Linked DNA regions of Homo sapiens. The main gene of each other region encodes a partner of the protein of the gene in region 2 in a complex. Each region holds a gene or a part of one and is shown on either strand. Other genes may lie near its edges. A codon is read from its position in the direction of its gene.

Region 1 (7,290 bases), on a different chromosome or scaffold from region 2:
CTAATGCAGGGGTTAGTAAACTTTTCCTGTAAAGGGTCAAGTAGTAAGTATATTAAGCTATGTGGACTACATATGATTTCTTTTACATCCTTTCTTCCTCTTCTTCATCTTCCTCCTCCTCTTTTTTTTTAAGGACCCTTTAAAAATGTAAAAACTATTCTTAACTTGCAAGTTGTCCACGTAATGAGCATGTAGAGAGCAAATGATTCTCACTAAGCACTAATGAAAGAGAAATGTGACAATGACAGGTTTTTGGTACTGTCTTGTTAGAAAGATTCAGCTTGGACTCCTACCTCAGAAGGCATTTCATAAGCCTCATTGTCAGGATCCACAGGCATATCTTCCAGAATTCCTTCCTGTGGGGCTCCTTCTTCATTCTAATATTTAAAGTAAGAAGCACAAAAAGAACATGATGAAGTAGCATTTTTCACTTTTAAAAATCAGAACCATGTTTTGGAAAAATCTTACATATAGGGATGTTGGCCACGGATCTTGAAAATGGCACACCTTAATATTACTACTGGCATTCTAAACTCCACAATGCCTCCGGGGAAACATTGCGGCAACATGGGTTATCAACCCTCAAAGTATGTAAACTTTTTGCTCAAGTAATTTACTATTTAGGAAATAATCCACAGCTATAGTCCAAAGATATTTTTCACAAGATCAATGACAGCAGGAAACAAAATTTTTAGAATTGTTAACTAAATGTTCAATGAATAATGAAGAGTTAAAAAATTATTGCTGGGTGCAGTGGTTCACTCCTGTGATTTCAGCACTTTGGGAGGCTGAGGCAGGTGGATCATTTGAGTCCAGGAGTTCAAGACCAGCCTGGGCTGTTACAATGAAACCCCATCTCTACTAAAAATACAAATAAATAGCTGGGCATGGTGGCACATGCCTACAGTCCCAGCCACTTGGGAGGCTGAGGCAGGAGGATCACTTGAGCCTGGGAGGTAGAGGCTACAGTGAGCCATGTGCATGCCACTGCATTCTAGCCTGGGTGACAGAGGGAGACCTTGTCTTAAAAAAAATTATCATTCAACTACTCAGTAGATTATGATAAAGACCTGTATTACTATTACCTGAGAATTATGTAACAACTACCTATTTATGGTATAATATTTAGCAGGCTATAAAGTGTTGTCTATATTATAGATACAACCTACACAGAATTCAGACGCAAAGGTAAAAAGTTTGGAAGAAAACACAATAAAATATGAAAGTTATTTTGTTGGATAGTATGTATGTTATTTTGACTTTTTTTCTAAGTGTTTAACTTTTATAACCACTTATAATGTAAAAGCATACATATTTAACACATTAATTTTAAATGACAATGAAGAAACAAATTCTTTTCTGAAATTTGAAGACTGAGACTATACATATTGAAGGAAAATAATCAAATACATGGTCAGAAAATTTTTCTAGGTATCTCTTCCTAGACAAAGAATACTACAAAACTCAGCCTGAAATGGTCATGGCTTTGTTGGTATTCTTCACTAAATACCTTTTGTTGCTTTGCATTTATTTCAGCAAAGTAATTATAAGAAGATAAAGGTAAGTGAAAATTCAAAGAACAGAGAGGCAATGTGAGCCTAAAGGGACTTGGAGAAAGAGATCAAATAATCCCTCAGCCAACGCGGCTGATTTTCAACAACATGTCTGATGTAAAAAAGCTTCCCCATGTCTTCACATGGAAGTGACTGACAGGGACGCAGAAGTATAAGAAAATGGCTAACAGTAAGAAAAGGTCACACTAAAGATCATGCTTATGGTAGGTGGGCAGAGAAGCTTACAGATCATTCTGCCCTTGCCAATGCCCTTTTTATAAACTAAAAAAAATCCAAATAATATATAAATTAAATAAAATATGAACCACCCCAAACTACCTCACTTTAAAATGTGGAGTAAACATACTGTTTTCGTAGTGTTTCACTTCTTGGTAGATACGCCTCTGCTGCAGGATGGCTAGGCACAAGGCCTTCCATGTCACAGGACTTGAGCTCAAGTCCTAGCTTCTCTAGATGACAGAGCTTTTGTGATGCTGAGAAGTTTCCTATGCTTTTTCTGAGTGTCAATTAGTCTTAGTGATCAAACGGGACAGCAAAACCTTCTTTACAACAGGGAGAAGGAAACGACATCATTAACTTTCTCATTAATATTTAGATTACTGTTAGGATATCCAAGTATAAGGGAAATAAGGCAAATTTTTTTCCATGATTTTGAAACTGACAGAGATTTGATTTTCTAATATAATTTGTTAGAAAATTTTGATATGGACCAGACAAGTAAATATGGCAGACCTACCCTGTTTGTTGTTTGATGATCAAAAAGGAGTTGTTATGACGGAACTAAGACTGATGGATATTACTGGATTTGTTTATATGTTATTTGGCTGAACTTTGAAGGATGTACACAGATGTGTAGGTTAGGTGAGTGTGTGTGTCTGCATGGTTCCAGCCTGGGTGAGTGGGTGTGTACAAGAGCACCCTGCAGTAATGGAACAGCGTCCTGTCCGGGGTGGGTTCCCATATTGCTCCCTGAGCTGCCAGGATAGGCTCCAACCACCTGCGGCCTCCACCGAAATAATTAGGTAAGTTATTTGACTTGTTTGTATTAATCTTTCTTAAACGTATATATAGCTCACATTAATTTCAATGTTTAATGTCAGAAGTGATTTATCTTTATTTAGGAGTTTGATGGTGTTTTTGTGTCCAGAAATTTGCCATAGGACTTAATTCTTGCTTATATCAATTAGCCAATGGTAAAACTGGTTTTGTTATATGTTGTTTTGCTTCAAGTCACAGTTTCCAGAAACTATTGATGAAGTTAAGTGAGGATTTACTGTATTATGTGCCCTCTGATGGAAGTACATACACATCACCATCTTAAACTAAGACTGTACTAGTTTAAGTGGGCTATTGTTCACTGATCCAATAACTTCATCAAGTGGGAACAAGCTACACTAGGGATGACAGCACAATCCTATTCTAGAGTCCAAATCGACAATAGGGTTTACGACCTCGATGTTGGATCAGGTCATCCTAATGGTGTAACTGCTATTAAAGGTTCGTTTGTTCGACAATTGAAGTCCTACATGATCGGTGAGGTCAGGAGATCTATAGCATCCTGGCCAACATGGTGAAACCCCATCTCTACTAAAATACAAAAAGTTAGCCGGGCGTGGTGGTTCTCCTATAGTCCCAGCTACTCGGGAGACTGAGCCAGGGGAATCACTTGAACCCGGGAGGTGGAGATTGCAGTGAGCCCAGATCACACCATTGCACTCCAGCCTGGTGACGGAGTGAGACTCCGTCTCAAAATAAATAAATAAATATATAAATAGAAAAAGAAAACAAAAAAAGAAAAGCCCTACGTGATCCGAATTTGAATTTGATTAACATTTAACTATCACTGACAACTTACAGCAAATATAAGGTGGTGAAAAACATGTTCATTGCTTACAACAGTGGCTACAATCAGCAAATTTTGCACTGTGAGAAACTACACAAGACAAAGAATACGTCTAATTTCAATAAGTAAATTGCAACTAAAAAGAAGTTAGTGGGAACCTGCCGCTTAAAGTAGAAGTGAGAGAGCATTAGCCAATTGCAACCTAAGAACTTTATTTCATTCTCATTGGGAACCCTACATAAGCAAATGGAAAACACATATGAGGTAGTTGGGGAAATTTGAACACTGACTTGATATTTAAGAATTATTGTTTATTTCTTTAGGTGTGATGATATATTGCAGTTTTACTTCAAAAAGTTCTTAACTTTTACAAATTAATTAAATGTTTACAGATCAAATAAGATATCTATCTAGGTTTGGGTGGGGGAAATGGGTGGGATATAGAAGAAACATGAGTTTAATATTTCATCAGTTTTAAAAAGTATATACAGTAGTCTCCTTTTATCCGTGGTTTTGTTTTCCATGGTTTCAGTTGCCCACCACCAATTGCAACCCCAAAATACTAAGATATTTAGAGACAGAGAGAGAGGGAAAGAGAAAGCGAGACCATACCCACATAACTTTTATTACAGTATATTATTATAATTGTTCTCTTTTGTTATTAGTTATTGTTGTTAATCTCTTACTGTGCCTAGTTTATAAATTAAACTTTTTCATAGGTACATAAGCATTGGAAAAAACAGTATATGTAGGGTTTGCTACTATCCGCAATTTCAGGTGTCCTAGTGGGGGTTTCAGAATGTATCCCTGTAGATAAAGGAAGACTGCTGTATGCTCATTTCAATAGTTAGTTCTCTAACTATGTTTTTCTGAATATGTGATCTAAATTTGTTGACTCTATCACATTCGTAGATTTTAAGCATACTAAAATATTTGGCAGCTATTCCAAGGAGAATATAACAACAAACACTTCATATGACCATCAGACACAATTTTATCCCTATACCTGTATATTTACTGTTTCATAAACCTATTTCTAAAAACATTGTTATCTATAAAGAAATATTAAATTTCAACTCCAATTTACAACTGTGCCTAATATAGTTTGGCTGTAACAAAAAAAGAACATTAAAATTTGCATTTTATGAGTATTCATGACTTGTTTTCAAAATATAATCATACTTGAAGGTGTGAAGTGCACCTTCTATTTATTTTTACCACAAACAAGAAAAAAAACTACCAATATAACAAATGTTAAACACTTTTGAAAAAATCAATTTTTTCTCAAATTTTCATTATGATATTATATTAACCCAGAATATGTTAGGGCAATAAAATAAATGAGAAAAACGTCTGGATTTTGGTATATGCCTGTATGCTTAATAAGAGAACCTACAGGGTAGGATATAGAGACATAGTAAGAAAATACCTTTTATTCTCTCTCTACTAGGCCCTATCCCTGGAATAGCTGTAGACTTTTTTTTTTCAAATGGGATTGTTTTACGAACAGTGAAATAGACTCAGTTCAGTATCTTATATCTGCATTTGACACACAGAAAGAAAAATGGTTATCAAAAAATTACAATGGAATGACCCTCATTGCTAATAAGGAAAGACTTAAAAGCTATATTAGGAAACAGAAATGGCTGAGACTGACCTCTTTCTCCCTAAAAAGCTTATTCAAGTTCTTTTTAAATAAACCTGTAGGGTTGAATAGCTGATATAACTGATTATCATTTCGTACTCGTCCCAGCTGAAGTGCTCTATAAAACAGATCATGAGACGAAGCTTCCTTCACTGCTAATAGCTTATTGGGAAGTACAATTCCAGGGAAGTGAAAGTGAAGGAAAAGGGAAGTGATACAAGGAGAAGTAGGAAAAAATTTCAGCTACTGTCTTTAGGAATACAACTACAGAATTTACATAATCTTTTTAAATTTCCTGTTTTGAACCATATTGTATTTAGATACCTAGTAATACTTTCTGTAAGGAAATTATCTTTATTCAATTCTATGACTTATAACTTTAATTTTAAATATATTTAAAATGACACATAATAAAGGCAAAAATTGCTTTCCAAACCACACTCTTCTAGAATCATCTAGGGCCCTTGTTAAAAATGCAGGTTTGTAGGGCCTTGTGAGTGTCTTGTTAAGTATGTTCCTTGGAAACCACTGCCCGACATCACCAATTGTTTGTAAACCCTGTGGTATAATTTAATATAGAGTATACCAATGTACTTGCTGTCAGTGTGAATAATTTTTTTTAAAAAAGATATGCTCATTTTGAAGTCCATCAAATGTTGGCAAATGTTGAGGGTTATCTGAAGACACTGGGAAGTAATCCATGGTGATCGTTAAAATAGCAAGGTTTCATCAATTATCTGGTATCTATGCTTTGTCAAAGTTAGAAATGTAGAGATACATTTCTAAATTAAAACTTTTATGTGGGAAGAAAAATTGAAATTCAAGGCTGGTTGGTCTTTGGTATACCCAAAGAACAAAGAGGAGGTTGGAGGTGTTCTGAAAAAGAGAAATGATACACGCTGCTCTTTGAGAAAGTTCATTGGCACTAGAAAGGTTCTGGGGAGCTAGTAAGCTTCAATTGGTGAGTGACAGTGGTGGGCAAAATTAGTCCTAGAGCTGCAGCAAGTTTTTTCAGCAGTTACAGAAAAAATTGGTCCCAGGTTACAACAGGCAGCCTCAGCATGCGGACTTGTAGAAAATTACACTTTTGGAGCAATGTGATGTTTCTTGAATGCTTTTCCTCCCAGGCTTCTTGATTGTTTTAGTTGGGTATAACAAGAATGACCCAATTTGTGTGATCAACTTTCACAGCCTTAAACATTCAAAGCAGCAGAAGCGCACTTTCTCTTTTGCCCACTGCTTTTACACTTGAAGATATTTTGGGTAGAACCATTGTTTTGCTGCATTATTGAACAATGTCACTTAGCCTCAAATAATGGAATTAATACCTTCACTCAACAACTCACACCAGGAGGATGAAGGAGAGAGATAGTAGCCAAAAAGATAAAAGAAGAAACTAAAAAAGAACTTTGACTTAAGAGGAAAAAAAGGTTCAACTTAAGCACACACCCGTGTTCCAAAATGAAATCAAGCCCAGAACTCGTATTTAAATAAAAATAGCATAGACGTTTCAAAAATGTGAATATTCTCTACTTCTCTACCTCAGACAGGGGAGTGTGTACATAGTGTAGATAGTATATTTCACTAAGAGAATTACCATGTATTTTATTGATGCACTTAAAAATGAAGGCGATAGACATGAATACCTTGTTAAAAAGCAAGGTAAAGATATATTTCATATGTTCAATTTTCTATTATCAATTCCTAGTCTGCTCATAATGCCATTTTGGGGTGGGGAGCAAAGGGCATCTGATTCAAAATCAAACTAATCTCAATTTTTGATAAAATCTAAGGAATTTTATTTTTAAAACATTGAATTAAAGCAAACTTTGGATACTCTGATTTCTCTTGAGGTCATAAATCCTCTGCCTTTTTAAGAGATCTATGTGGAGAGGAACAACTCTGGGTCTTAAACGAATTATTGAGGTCTTGTTTTGGAAAGGCTAGATATTTTGTTAAAAAATATAAGATTTCAAAAAACCTAAAACTTTGGACAATGTTATTTAATCATCAAAAGCAAAACAATATGCATATTTCAGAAATAACACTATATTTTCAGTCTTACTATTATGCATAAGAAAGAACAATATAAAAATAATGTAATGATTACATTTATTGTTTACATACTCTGAGGAGTATTTAATTGCATCCTAGTAAGTATATTCTGTCACATGAGAAGCCATAGAAATTGGCATGTTCTGCTGTATCCAATGCCCAAAGGATAATAA
Region 2 (7,084 bases):
AGTGATATTGTTTCTATTTTGCCATTGAGGAAATTAAGGCAAAGTGTTGTAGTGACCCGCTATAGGCCTATAAGCTGAGGAATTGGTGCAATTCAGTTCCAAAGGCTAGCTCTCGAGGTTTCTCTTAGTGTTCCTGCCACAGTGGCACACATTCCTAAAATCTGTTACCATTGCTTTGGCATCTGAATAAATTTTTAGCAGTGCTCCTCGGCCAAAAGAAAATAGTTCAGTCTTAAGCAGTTATATTCTAACTGTTTAATAAGTATTTATAGCCTAACAGCTAATAGCCATTTAGAAAAAAAATAAATTGAAAGAAGAAATATTTTCATTTCATTCTTAAATAACTGTGGCTAGCTACCAATGAGAGGTGTGCACCTGTTGGACATTAAATGACTTGGCAGAACCACTTGCATTCCTGTTTCATATTGATTTTCATCTAGTATTTTTTTTTAATCACAGCAACTGCCAGAAACTCAGCTTCATAGAAATATTATGTCATTAAGAGGAATGTAGCATGATCTTACGTTGAATTTGTGAACTACTTCAAACTAGTTTGCCAATATCTGACATGTAAGGTTTTGCTGTTTTCCCTGAACATTCGAAATATCCTTTGGTGGCTGTATGAGTTTGGGACACCTTAGGGCACCTGAGTGCACAGTTTGCGAACTGCCAGCATGGCATTTTTTTTTTTTTTTTTAAGGGACGTGTTGTATATATCAAACCTCTTCATTACTGGAGATAAAAGAAATACAATAAATAGAAGAGAAGGCCCCTCCTCGTATCTTCATTCTAGAAGAGAGATGTTTGTAGTAGCTTCACCTGTTGTCAAGCTGCCATTTCTTTCTCCACTGTAATTTCCTAAAAGTGTGGTAGGAAAGAGAATAGTTGCTGAGAAGGGTTCTTGAGCTTAATTTCTACTTAATTATTAGATTTAATAAAGGCAAGTTTTAAAGAAGTATCTGTGGCCTGACAAAGACTTCAAGCCAAATTAGAGGCAAAGGAGCTCAAACTCATTCAGAGAAGAAATTGTGTTAGCTGAAAAAGAAGTCGGTGCTAATCTTTAAGATTTTTTAAAGTTCTCTCTAGACCAAACAAAGAAGGGAAGAAAATTTTAGCATGATTATAGTTTACACACATTTATTAATGGCATTATGTTGAAAAAAAGTATTTGGCATTATTGTATAGTGAACAGGGAGTTAGAAAGTGGGTTGTTCAATGAGAACACATGGACACAGGGAGGGGAACATCACACACCAGGGCCTGTCGGGGGTGGGGGTCTAAGGGAGGGATAGAATTAGGATAAATACCTAATGTAGATGACGAGTTGATGGGTGCAGCAAACCACCATGGCACGCGTATACCTATGTAACAAACCTGCACGTTCTGCACATGTATCCCAGAACTTAAAGTATAATAATAATAAAAAAAAGCAGGTCGTAACTAGCTATGACCTTGCACATATAATTTAGGGTATTTGTATGATAGATTCTCCCTCTGAGTAGAAGACCACTAAGCTCTCTTCCCTTCCAGTTTCTAAGCCTTCATTATTTTAGACTAGTTGCTAAGATTTAAGTAATCTTCATTTGTAGGCATATATATACATATACACATACATGATACATATACATATGCTTATATACACTATATACATGTATACATAGTGCATACAATGTATACATTAAAAATAGAAACCAAACAAGTAGAGGAGAAGAAAAATTGAATGATAGAAGTCAACTCCAAAGAAGAGAAAAAGGAAATTAAACCAGCAAAACAAAATGCATGAAATAAAATGGTAGCCCAGAATCCAAATATTGTCAGTAATTACAACAGTAAACGTTAATGGACTTAGGACTTTATTTATTTATTATTAGTTTTGGAGATGGGGTCTTGCTCTGTTGCTCAGGCTGGAGTGCAGTGGCGTGATCTCAGCTCACTGCAACGTCTGCCTCCCAGGCTCAAATGATTTTCCTCTCTCACCCTCTGAGTAGCTGGGATTACAGGCGCCCACCACCATGCACGGCCAGCTATGATGACTCTATTTAAAAGACAAAGGCTGTCTGTATTGTTTACAGGAAATATGTGTAAAATATATTAAAATATTTTTAATACAGAAAGATTGAAAGTAAATTTTTAAATTACCTTGCAAATTCTAACCAAAAGAAAGTTAGAATACTTATTAATAATAGTTATAGTTGAATAATTATTACCAGCATAAAAAAGGGTCACTGCATATTGATAAAATATTTAATCAAGGAAGTAACAAGTCTGGGAGTGGTGGCTCATGACTGTAATCCCAGCACCTTGGGAGGCCGAGACAGGTGGATCACTTGAGGTCAGGAGTTCCAGACCAGTCTGGCCAACATGGTGAAATCCCGTCTCGACTAAAAATACAAAAATTAGCCGGGTGTGGTAGCACGTGACTGTAATCCCAGCTACTCGGGAGGCTGAGGCAGGAGAATTGCTTGAACCTGGGAGGCGAAGATTACAGTGAGCCAAGATCACGCCATTGCACTCCAGCCTGTGCAACAGAGCGAGACTCCATCTCAAAAAAAAAAAAAAAAATAGCGATTTAAAATGGTATATACCAAGTGACATCATTTCAAAGTAAAAATGCACAAATTGACAAAACTACAAGGAGAAATAGACAAATTATTATTATAATGGGAGATTTAGACATGCTTTTTTCTAATTGATAGAACAATGAGATAGAAATTTGTCAAGCCTATAGAACAAGAATCAGCAATTTTCTTCTGGGTCAGATAGTAAATATTCAGGCATTACAGGCCACCTAAAGTCTTGGTTACATAGTTTTTTGTTTTGTTTTGTTTTGTTTTGTTTTTAACAACCATTGCAAAAACCATTCTTAGCTTGAAGGCAGTAGCAAAATAGGTTATAAGCCAACCCCTGCCCTAAAGAATTTCAATCAGTAGCCCAAAATCTTTTCACGAAGAAAGCTGTGGCTTCTCTGGCCAATTTTACTAAACATTTAAGAAATAATGACTGAAAGGTCACTTTTACACAAACTATTTTGCACAAGCCAAAAAAGGGAACATTCCTCAACTTATTTTTTAAGGCCAGGATAACCTTGATAACAATACTTGGCAAAATATGGGAAAGGAAAATTCGAGGAACATCTCACTCAGATGCAAAATCTCGGAAAAATAATTAGCAAAGTGGATTTGGCACTACATAAATAGGATGACACATCAGGAACAAGGTGGTTTCAACTTTACACTAAAGGAGAACACTGGTTATTTTAGAAAGTGCAGCAAACTTGATAAAATCCAATATTCCTTCCTGATAAAAACTGTTAGCAAACTGGGAAATAGAAAGGGGGAACTTCCTTAACCTGAAAAATATCTACAAGAAATTTGTAGTAAATATATTTAGTAGTGATACACTGAATGCTTTCCTTTTGAAATTAGGGACAAGTTAGTCCCGCTTCAGTAATTTACTAGAAATTATAGCACAGGAAAGCAGGAAAAAATAAACGATAGGAGGATTGAGAGGAAACAAAACTTATTTTGCACAGATATGATTATATAAATATAAAATCCATAAGAATATAAATATTTAGAATTAATAAAAGGCAAAGTTGTTGGATATAAAGTCAGTATAAAAATCAATTGTATTTACATATGAGAGGAAACAAAACTTACTTATTTTGCACAGATATGATTATACAAATATAAAATCCACAAGAATCTAGAAATAAATGTTTAGAATTAATAAAAGGTAGGCAAGGTTGTTGGATAGAAAGTCAGTATAAAAATCAATTGTATTTATATATATATAAACAGTAAAATTTAGAAAAAGATGCCATAGCATGAAAAAACATTAAGTACTTAAGAATCTAGCAAGTGCTATGCAAGACCTCTCTGACATTTAAAAAACTTTTTTGAGAGATATTAAAGTAGCCCTGATAAGTGGAGCGATAAACTATCACTGGATTAGAGGATACAGTAAACAGGTAATCGACCGCAGTTCCAATGTAATTGCAGTCAAAATCCCAAGCATTTTTTATAGTACTTGTTAAGCTGACTCTGAAACATACAGAGGAACAGAAAGAGCAAAAAAGAGACAAGATATTCTTGAACAACAACAAAAATGGGTGATGTGCCCCTCCAGGTATCAGACTGTAAAGAGTGAGACTATATCTTAGTGCTGTAGTTATCTAGACCAGTGTTACAGAATTTGAGAAACAGACCCAAGAATATATGGACTTTAACATACCACAGAAGAGGCATTGCACATCAATAGTATGAAGATAGACTTTTCAGTAAAGGTGGTTGGACAATTGGATGTCCCTATGGGAAAAAAAAATTTCCCAGATTACCATTATTCCATACACAAATCAACTCCAGATTTATTAAAAACCTAGATGTGAAACCAAAACTAAGAAGTCTTTTGAATATAATATGGCAGAGTGTCTCTGTGGCCTCAGTGTAGAACTTTTTAAAAAGGCCATAAAAAGGCTAAGGAAAGGATTCATATATTCAGCTTCACTGAAGTGAAGTAACTTTTTATCAAAAGATAACATAAGGATAATGACAAGACAAACCACAAATTGGAAAAAGATACTTGCAGACATTACACAGTATTGAATATTCACAATACATAGAGAACTGTAGCGGGGGAAAAATTGTATGAAAGATTTAAGTACTATACAGAAGGAGAAATCTAAATGGCCAACCAACAGAAATATATTCAGCATTGTTAGTAATTGGAAATACAAATTAAAATCTGAGATATAGTTACACTGTAAGATTGGCAAAAATAAAAACATGTGATGCACCAAGCCTTGTTGCTGTGGAATGGAGGCTTACTCACTTCTGTGCAAGAGTAAGTTGGTACAAGCCAGTTGGAAAAACAGTTTGGTATTAACTAATGAAGATGTGCCCTGTGACACAACAGTGAGACTCCTAGCTATAGACCTTACGTGAGACACTCAACAGAAGTATTCACAGGAGCATCGTTTGTATAGTAAAAGCCAGAAACGTATCAACAGGACCGTGAATGACTTGTGCACAAGCCCAGCCACTCTTGAAGCTGACTCTTACAATGTTAGTCGACTGAGAGAAGCAAAAGACAAAAGAATATATGATTCCATGTATATAAACTTCATAAACAGGAGAAACTGTAATAGGTGGTGAATTTGTAGAACAAATGCCTTGAGTTTATCTTTTAAGAAAACGTGTTGCTTTTGAAATACTAGCATGCAAACATAAAGTCATGTTCTTACACTGCAAAGTAATTGTCATAAATCCTAAGTAATACAAATTTCTATTACCATGTAATCAGCTACAAGGTCCTATTACTACCATTCTGAGTAGTAGTCAAAGCAAGGTAAAAACACGTTTTAAAAAAAATATGTATCTATTACTTTCTAGGGTTTCTCACATTCTAACATTTTCCTTTTTTGTTTTTCTTTTAAAGAAAGGGTGGATTTTTTGTGGATCTCTTTGTAAGAGTATCTAACCAAGTTGCAGTTAACATGTACAAGCAGTTGGGCTACAGTGTATATAGGACGGTCATAGAGTACTATTCGGCCAGCAACGGGGAGCCTGATGAGGACGCTTATGGTAAGCTCCCTTCCATGGCAGTATCCCCAAGAAGTCGAAACAGTTACATTCTTTCTACAGATTGTAGTATTTGATTATTTTAATAAATGTAGAATATTTGACTTTAAAATTTAAATTTCCCTCAACCTACCTTTATCAACCTATTAGTAGTAGTAATTAACTTACCTATTAACTAACCAATGGTTAATTTCTGTACCTTACTGTTTCACTCTGTTACATACATATTATTTTGCTAACAAGAAAACGTGTATTGTGAGCTGAATACTGGGTGAGGTCTGGTTAGCATCTGGTACACTTGGCAATTGGGAGACATTTATAAATACATTTTGCTTAGAATATGGTGAAGTGGGGGTAGGGATAAAACCTCTTATGGGAACTTTACCTATACACTTTACATTTGATATAATACATTTTTTGGGTGTTTATATTAAACTTTGCTTCTTTACAGATATGAGGAAAGCACTTTCCAGGGATACTGAGAAGAAATCCATCATACCATTACCTCATCCTGTGAGGCCTGAAGACATTGAATAACCCTGGGCAGTGGTTCTTAGGCAGATACTCTAGATGCTTTATGGACAATATTATTTTCATTGGATGATTCTGGAGCTCTATTAGGAGAAAAGTAATCATTTTAGGTCTTAAAGACTTCAAGAAAATACAGGTTATCAATTTATTTTAAATCTCATTGTTTCCAGTTAGCAATATCATACCTATTAAAGCTGTTCATTGTAACAAAATTCAATCAAAAAGGCAGCTAGGTCAGAAGGAAACATACCACTCTCATGGTTCATAGTATTCACTGTATGTATGCTAGGGAAAAGACTTGCTCCAGTCTCCTCCTCAGTTCTGTGCCTGAGAACCACTGCTGCATATATTTGTTTTTAAATTTTGTATTGAACTGTTAATTGAAGCTTTAAAAGCATATATGAAATGTATAAATCTAAGATGTATAATACATTATTGACTCTATGAATGTTTTCTGAAGTTTGTTAGTCATTTGTAAAACTAAATCAGATTGTAATCCCAGTACTTTGGGAGGCCAAGGCAGGCTGATTGCTTGAGGTCAGGAGTTTGAGACCAGCCTGGCCAAAATCTATACTAAAAAAAATACAAAAATTAGCTGGGCATCCCAGCTATGCAGAAGCTGAAGCACAAGAATTGCTTGAACCCTGGAGGTGGAGGTTGCAGTGAGCTGAGATCGTCCCACTGCACTCCAGCCCGGGCAACAGAGTAAGACCCTGCCTCAAGAAAAAAAAAAAAAAAAAAAATCAGGATTGTGAAAGGTCATCATCATTTAAGATACGTTTAATTAAATTGTGACTTCCATACGTAGTATTTTAAAAATGCACACTTGAAGCAATCACTGTCCAGCATACTTAAGAAGCTCCCTTCTTATCGTGTAGTAAATTCTTCCCAGTCACCTGCGTTCATACCATTATACTGTTTGTTTGTTAGTCCTAGATCTTTTCTCCTCTTCACAATGCTTTGCTTAAATCCTG

Evidence for each region.
Region 1: the proteins of NAA20 (region 2) and SNCA are in contact, whole or in part, in a cryo-EM structure (PDB 7STX), measured with the Homo sapiens proteins. Residues at the interface, in NP_057184.1 of Homo sapiens: Leu23, Thr24, Glu25, Tyr27, His73, Val74, Thr75, Ala76, Leu77, Ser78, Leu110 (codon at 5,459), Phe111 (codon at 5,462), Tyr137 (codon at 5,540), Tyr138 (codon at 5,543), Ser139 (codon at 5,546), Ala140 (codon at 5,549); in NP_000336.1 of Homo sapiens: Met1, Asp2, Val3, Phe4.

Annotation. Positions count from the first base shown.
Region 1 is NC_000004.12:89,728,901-89,736,190, forward strand, and holds part of SNCA (alpha-synuclein), read right to left. Parts: intron 378-7,290; coding exon 294-377; intron 1-293. UniProt on the Homo sapiens protein: Neuronal protein that plays several roles in synaptic activity such as regulation of synaptic vesicle trafficking and subsequent neurotransmitter release.
Region 2 is NC_000020.11:20,027,072-20,034,155, forward strand, and holds the end of NAA20 (N-alpha-acetyltransferase 20), read left to right. Parts: intron 1-5,436; coding exon 5,437-5,582; intron 5,583-6,030; coding exon 6,031-6,116; 3' UTR 6,117-6,584; downstream 6,585-7,084. UniProt on the Homo sapiens protein: Catalytic subunit of the NatB complex which catalyzes acetylation of the N-terminal methionine residues of peptides beginning with Met-Asp, Met-Glu, Met-Asn and Met-Gln. Proteins with cell cycle functions are overrepresented in the pool of NatB substrates.